Linked DNA regions of Homo sapiens. The protein of the gene in region 1 purifies or fractionates together with the protein of each later gene. This does not show direct contact. Each region holds a gene or a part of one and is shown in the gene's direction. Other genes may lie near its edges.

Region 1 (3,827 bases):
TGTATGTTTATGTAGTATAAATTCCTTATATTTATTCTCTTAGAATTTTATCTTTGCGAAGTGCTTGTTTAACTCTGCCTTTTTTTTTTTGGCGAGGTGGTTGTGTGTCTTTATTTTTATGTGTAGGAGACCATATTTATACCAATACCTTAGGATATAAGACAAACCCACTTAATATAGAGGCTTAATGCAAAAGCATTTATTGAGCTCAAGGTTCCATGGTTAGAAAATTAGCCTGGGCTCAGCCTAAACTCAGTCCATTCCTTCTGTTCCTGGCTGGGCTCTCATGTGTGTTCAGGGCAGTGAGGCAGCTCTGCTTCAGGATGTCCCTGGGGCATCTGTGTGAGCGCCCCCCTCTCCCATGCAGTTCTTTATCCTCCAGCCATCCAGCCCAGGGTTCACCTCAGCACAGGGCATGACCCCAAGGCAGTGAGTGGACATGTGCAAAGCCTTTTCAGGTCTAGGCTCAGAGCTGCCAACCATTGCTTCTGGGAAATTCTATCACCTAATGCAAGTTACAGGACAGGTCAGACTCAAGGGGTGGGGAAAAAGACACCACCTCTTGTTGGAAGGAGCTGGAAATTCATATAACCAAGCAAGTGGATACAGGGACATGTGATTGTTAGAGGGCATGTTCCTAATTAATCTATCATTTATACGATATGTGTGAAATAACATATTAATAGTTATATGTATGAATATGAATATATATAAATTGATATACTATTTCATATATTCTTAAGAATACATCCAAGTCTCTAAAGAATTAATATCCAGAATACATGCATATATATGTTTTCTAATTAGTTATATACAGATATATGAAATATCATATATGATATATATTATAAAACCTATGTCACATATATGACATATATCATGTATATGTATATGTGTCACTATTTGCTAAAACATTAAGTAAAATCAGTGTAGAAATCCATAGGATACTCTGAAATAATGATACAGAGAATGAGAAAGAAAGTAAAAAATGACAATGAAACAATTGATGAATCTAGGTAATGGCATTTACTATATTATTTTAAAAATATTTTTAGACATTAGAAAACCCACAAAACTAAAAGGAAATATTATGAAATAACTGTGGAAATTATCAGTATTTATACATATGTGTATGTTCTCTAATTCATCTAGTATATATAGATATATGACATATGTGTTATATAATATATATGTTAGATTAACTAGAAACCATACATATATATGTATTTATTCTGGATATTAATTCTTTAGAGACTTAAATGTATTCTTGAAATAACATCTCCCAAATTTTACCTGTGTTGTCATATTCTCTGTGGTTATGTTTTCACAAACAAAAGTTTCTATCCTTCATGTAGACTAATTTTTCATGCCTCTTTCTTGTGGTTGGTGAGTGTTGTGTCTTATCCTATATTGGGAATATCACAATATATTACTGTGTTATCTTACAAAATTGTTAATATTCTTTCCTTATAAATTTGGTTAATTCTAATGGGATTGACTTTTTAAATACTGTATGAGATAAGGATCCAAATATGCATATCTAATTTTTGAATTTTTAGCAAAATTTCCCACCAACATTTATTGAAAAGTTCATATTTGCTCACATAACTTGATTTTTTTACCTGTAACATATATGAAATGTCCATGAGCAATTATCTGGCCTCTCTTCCATCTTCAGTTAACTTATTTACTTTTCTGTACTATGATGTTAAAAAGTAAGTTTCACTTCCAGTATGGTACAAATATTTTTCTAACTTCTTCATTTATTTAATAATATCTTAGCTATTCTTGACTAATGTGTTATTTAAAACTTTGAATCATCTTATTAACTTCCACAAGCAAATAAATGTTTAGTCTCTTGTTGACATTGTAATAAGCCTCCAGATCAATGTGGAGAGAACTAAATGTTTGACAATATTGAGATTTCCAATGCATGATCATAATATGAATTTCCCACTTATTAATAGCCTTTTAATAAATATATAATTAATTTCATAACTTTCTCTGTTACTGATGATTTTAATAGTTTTTGATAACTTTTCATTTTTGTTTTATGGATTTTCTAATATATAGAAATATTAAAAGAATAATGCAACAAATCTTCTTACCTACATTCATCAAGTGTTACATTGCTGTCATTTTTTACTCTCTTTCTCTCATTTTCTGTATTACTCCTTCAGTTTCCCTATGGATTTATACACTTATTTGATTGAATGTATTAGAAAGAGTGACATCTTTTTGATATTTAGAGTCTCCCAAATTTACATAGTGAGAGTACCCACACCTTTTGAATGTGAAATCGTTAGTATTTAGACAATTATTGGCTTGAGTGATGTTGAAAACTAATTTTTCCTATTATACCTGTTCATTGGAGAGATAGATATTCAATGTTATTCATCAAACCTACTAAATTATGCTAGACATTACAAAATTTGCCTCTAGATTCTTGTGGGTCTTCTAGGTACATGACCCTATCATGTGGGCACAAAGTAAGCTCTGTTTCTTCTTCAGCTTCCTCTGAGATATTCTCTTCATCTGCAGTGTTGTGCAGTTTCAAAATATTTTATCTGGGAATGGATTTCTGCTTATTTTTGACTGGTTTTCATTGACCACTTGGGTGTTTAGAGAGGTCTTTCATAAATTTTGGAAACGTATCAATCTTTTAAGTATTGTCTCTGCACCCTACTGTCTGATGAACTTGGTTGTTCCCAATTGGCAATGATGTAATCTAAAAATAATTAAAGTTTTCTATTACTTTGATAGGTGTTTGAATTCCAGTTGACTTCAGAGGAGATGAAAGCCATAGATGGCCTAAACAGAAATGTGCGATATTTGACCCTTGATATGTAAGTAATTTTGGAGATGGTTGTCCTAATTTATTTTCAGAGGAGGAACGTAGGATGGGTGTTGAGAGTGACCTCCACACCAGGGGCACAGAGGCCAACGTGAGACAGAGGTGAGACAGGAGCTTTCTGGAAGTCTCCTCCTGGATTCACTCCAGAGCTCTGTTCTCTGGCAGGGAGAGTGGCCTGGGGTCAGCATGGGTCAACCTGTGCCTCTGCTCTCGTGACTCCAAGGAACTTTCCAGAGCAGCCAAGATCATTGCTGAATCTGCACCTTCCATGTAGGCCTGCTGTTTGTGCTACTGTCTAGTGTACACACTGTGGATATTGCCCATGTGGTCGCATTAGATGTTTCCAAATCTGTGCTTCTATCTTGTTCTTCCCAACCTGCTCAATGTCTTACCAGATCAAAGGCAGTTCCGTCAATCTTGTGGGCCAGGTTCCAATTCCCACCTCTTTCACATGGAATTGCTTGCTGGATCCTGTCGATTTAGCATTTTTAATCATTTCAAACCTTTTTCGTGCCTGTCTTTGCATGTTTGCCCATGAGCCAAACACTGCATTTGCCTCCAGAAAGTCTGTCTTAGTGAAGCGAATAGGAGCACTTGGCCTTGGTGTTCTGCAATATGGAGATCTCAGTGCAGAGAATGAAGAAATGTTAAAATCAAATGCAGAGTGTAGATGCAAAAGCACCATTGTTGGAGATAATTTATAACCAATAACAGAAGTTTACTATTCCTCTGTGTTCTAAGGTTCTAGGATTCATAGAAGGTCATTCATATAATGAGGGAAAAAAGAAGTTATGTAACTGCTGGCAGTAGGGATTTCAACAAGTAATAGAGATGATGAGATAATGTGTGAAAAAAACAAGCACAATGGTACATCATAAGTACCCAAAATTTGGTGGATATTATTAGTAGTATTTTATTCATTTAGAGGAAAATACAAAATGAAAACGGAGATGATAAAAAGAAAAGGAAAAGT
Region 2 (3,827 bases), on another chromosome or scaffold:
TTAGCCAGGTGTGGTGGCAGGCACCTGTAATCCCAGCTACTTGGGAGGCTGAAGCAGGAGAATCACTTGAACTCGGGAGGCAGAGGTTGCCATGAGCCAAGATCGCCTCACTGCTCTCCAGCCTTGGCAACAAAGCGAGACTCTGTCTCAAAAAAAAAAAGAAAAAAGATTAAAGAAAGAAGTATTTCTGACCATAATCATTAATATCATTCGTGTACTTCCATTATCTCCCCTTTCCTTCAGGCTGAAAAGAGCCCTGGTCCCATTGTCTCTCGAACTCGGAGCTGGGACTCTTCCAGTCCTGTTGACCGTCCTGAGCCAGAGGCTGCTAGCCCCACCACCAGAACTCGCCCAGTGACCCGAAGCATGGGAACAGGAGACACCCCTGGCCTGGAGGTACCATCTAGCCCTCTGCGGAAAGCCAAGCGAGCTCGCCTCTGCTCCTCCAGCAGTTCGGTGAGTCCACCTCGCATGTAGCAGTGGCTGAGCATAAACAGCATATTGGGCCCTCCCTAGGCAGCATGGAGAAGCAGGCAGGAGCCCTTCCGTGGTCCAATGCAAAAAGTAGACCATGTGAATAAATTTAAAGTTGGATGACCAAAGGGAAAAAATGTCAGTCATGTTTTTTGCTCCTTTTTGTTCCTTTGGAGTGGATTCTGGAGAAATAATAGATATTTCAGGCAAATGGAACAACGGTGTGATACAGGGACAAACCTGATCTGGCAGCGGTCCCCAACCTTTTTGGCACCAGGGACCGTTTTCATGGAAGACCATTTTTCCACGGACCACGGTTGGGAGGATGGTTTCGGGATGATACGAGCACATTACATGTATTGTGTACTTTATTTCTATTATTATTATATTGTAATATATAATGAAATAATTGTACAACTCACCATAATATAGAGTCAGTGGGAACCTGCAGCTTGTTTTCCTGCAACTAGATGATCTCATCTGGGGGTGACGGGAAACAGTGACAGATCATGAGGTGTCAGACTCTCATAAGGAGCCCGAAGTCTAGATCCCTCTCATGTGCAGTTCACAGTAGGGTTCCTGCTCCTATAAGAATCTAATGCCACTGCTGATCTGACAGGAGGCAGAGCTCAGGTGGTAATGCAAACAATGGGGAGCAGCTGTAAATTCAGATGAAGCTTTGCTTGCCCGCCTGCTGTTCACCTCCTACTGTGCGACCTGGTACCCATCCATGGCCTGGGGGTTGGGTATCCCTTATCCCTTGTGATAAGGTATAGTTTGTTTAACACAAAAGGAGTGAAAAAATAAAGAAAATGAGAGGAAAATGTGTAGGCAAAGTTTGAAGGAGAGCATAAACACTCGAAGTATGGGTAGTTGTGAGATTCTGGACTTGATAACTAACAGCAGTGCCTCCCTGAACTTACATAGCATCTACCTATGAATGCTATTTCTTTTTCTCCTTCCTCAGGACACATCTTCCCGAAGCTTCTTTGATCCCACCTCTCAGCATAGAGACTGGTGCCCTTGGGTGAATATCACACTTGGCAAAGAAAGCAGGGAGAATGGTGGAACTGAACCAGATGCCAGCGCCCCAGCAGAGCCAGGCTGGAAAGCAGTGCTGACCATCCTCTTGGCGCACAAACAGTCTAGCCAGCCAGCTGAAACGGACTCCATGGTGAGATACGCCACTGCCTTGTGTGTGGGCAGCACTTGCTGTTTATGGGAGGTGGAGCAGAGGCTGGGCCTATAATTAGCACCCCGCCTGCCTTCAGCTTTCATACGTCAAGTTATTTGGGTTTTTTTGTTTGTTTGTTTGTTTTTTGAGATGGAGTCTCGTTCTTGTTGCCTAGGCTGGAGTCCAATGGCACGATCTCAGCTCACTGCAACCTCCGCCTCCTGGGTCAAGCGATTCTCCTGCCTTAGCTTCCCAAGTAGCTAGGATTACAGGCGCCCACCACCACACCCGGCTAATTTTGTATTTTTAATAGACAGGGTTTCACCATGTTGGCCAGGCTGGTCTCGAACTCCTGACCTCAGGTGATCCCCCCGCCTCGGCCTCCCAAAGTGCTGGGATTACAGGCGTGAGCCACCGTGCCCGGCTTATACGTCAAGTTAGACTCATTCTGCTTTCGTCCTAGGGATTAGGCATAGAACCGGTTCGTCTTTCTGTAGTTTAGCATATGGCATTCCGTCAAGTTCTGATAAATTCTTTTGTTCTCCTAAATAAAGTGACTCCAAGTAGAAAAGGAGTACGGAAACAGAAATAGATGAACAGGCAGCTGCTCCGGCCTCATGTTGCAGACAGCTGCTTTTTCTTTCATTTGCTGTCACTTGCACTTGGAGCCTGGCCAGTTAACTTAGCTGTTTGGAGCACTGGGCTCTGACACCAAGATGATGGCCTCATTCCGCACGCTGGGCACATTACTTTACTCTGTTCCACAGCCCAGACTGTGACTCTGCTAGCCATTGCAGCCATAACTGCTGTGGGTTACAAATGTGGGTGACAACTGAGAAGAAAAGTCAAGTGTTTGCTCTGTGTAAAGATTGGAAGTGATAGGCTGGGTAATATGGAACCATGAAAACTGGGTTCTCTCCTTCGCTGGCTCACTCCCAAATTTTCCTTGTAGCTGGTAACAATTTCTGATCGTAGTCTATAACTTTCAAGGACAAAGTAAAATAATACTTGTCAGCAGATATTTATGAGCAGCACTCCTAGATTCATGGTTTTCTAGGGTTACAGGATTCCACTGGAGGGAACTATAGTAATGCTAAAAGTCCAAAATTGCATGGCTGGGTGTGGTGGCTCACGCCTGTAATCCTAGCACTTTGGGAGGCCAAGGCGAATGGATCACCTGAGGTCAAGAGTTTGAGACAACCTAGCCAACATGGTGAAACCTCGTCTCTACTCAAAATACAAAAAAAAAAAAAATTTGCCATGTGTGGTGGCAGGCGCCTGTAATCCCAGCTATTGGGGAGGCTGAGGCTGGAGAATCACTTGAACCCAGGAGGCGGAGGTTGCAGTGAGCCGAGGTTGCGCTCCAGCCTGGGCTTCAGAGAGAGACGCTGTCTCAAAAAAAAATAAAATAAAAATAAATGTATATTAGTACCCTTAGTAAATATGCAGGTGAAGGTTTTCCAAGTTTTCACAGAAAAAAAAATCCGCATTTCTCTGCCTAGATCTTCAGGAACTAGTACATTGGCAGTTTTCAGTAAGACTCCTCTCTGTCACTGCCATACGAAAAAGAAAGCCTATGGGTTTTGTTTTTGTTTTGTAGTGGGAAAAGTTGGCCTCATAATTGGCCCTGGATTCCAGGACTTTTTTTTTCGGTAGTGTGTCTTAACCTTCTGACAGCTGCTGTGACGAAGCTAGAAAGCTTAATGAGACTGTGTGGTAAAGGATCCTGATGTTCGAAAAAAAAAAGTATATACCGAGGCCAGGCACAGTGGCTCATGCCTGTGATCCCAGCACTTTGGGACGCTGACGCAGGGGAATCACCTGAGGTCAGGAGTTCGAGACCAGCGTGGCCAACATGGCAAAACCCCATCTCTACTGAAAATACAAAAATTAGCCAGGACTGTTGGTGTGCACCTGTAATCCCAGTACTCCAGAGGCTGAGGCAGGAGAATTGGGAGGTGGAGGTTGCAGTGAGCCGAGATCGCACTACTACACTCCAGCGTGGGCAACAGAGTGAGACTCCCTTTCAAAAAAAAAAAAAAAAGAAAAAAGTGTATACTATTTTTTCAACTCAGGTTTCTTTCAACTTTGTCACTCTATTAACTAAATTTCCCTCAGTCATTAGTAAGAGTTCAAACTTTTTCCTCCTGGAACTTATTGAAACATCCTCAAAGAGGAT

What was found.
Region 2: the proteins of AKR1C1 (region 1) and ZC3HC1 purify together in Homo sapiens (co-immunoprecipitation; one large-scale study listed by IntAct). This does not show direct contact.

The regions. Positions count from the first base shown.
Region 1 is NC_000010.11:4,973,088-4,976,914, forward strand, and holds part of AKR1C1 (aldo-keto reductase family 1 member C1), read left to right. Parts: intron 1-2,763; coding exon 2,764-2,846; intron 2,847-3,827. UniProt on the Homo sapiens protein: Cytosolic aldo-keto reductase that catalyzes the NADH and NADPH-dependent reduction of ketosteroids to hydroxysteroids.
Region 2 is NC_000007.14:130,020,140-130,023,966, reverse strand, and holds part of ZC3HC1 (zinc finger C3HC-type protein 1), read left to right. Parts: intron 1-243; coding exon 244-456; intron 457-1,441; coding exon 1,442-1,648; intron 1,649-3,827. UniProt on the Homo sapiens protein: Required for proper positioning of a substantial amount of TPR at the nuclear basket (NB) through interaction with TPR.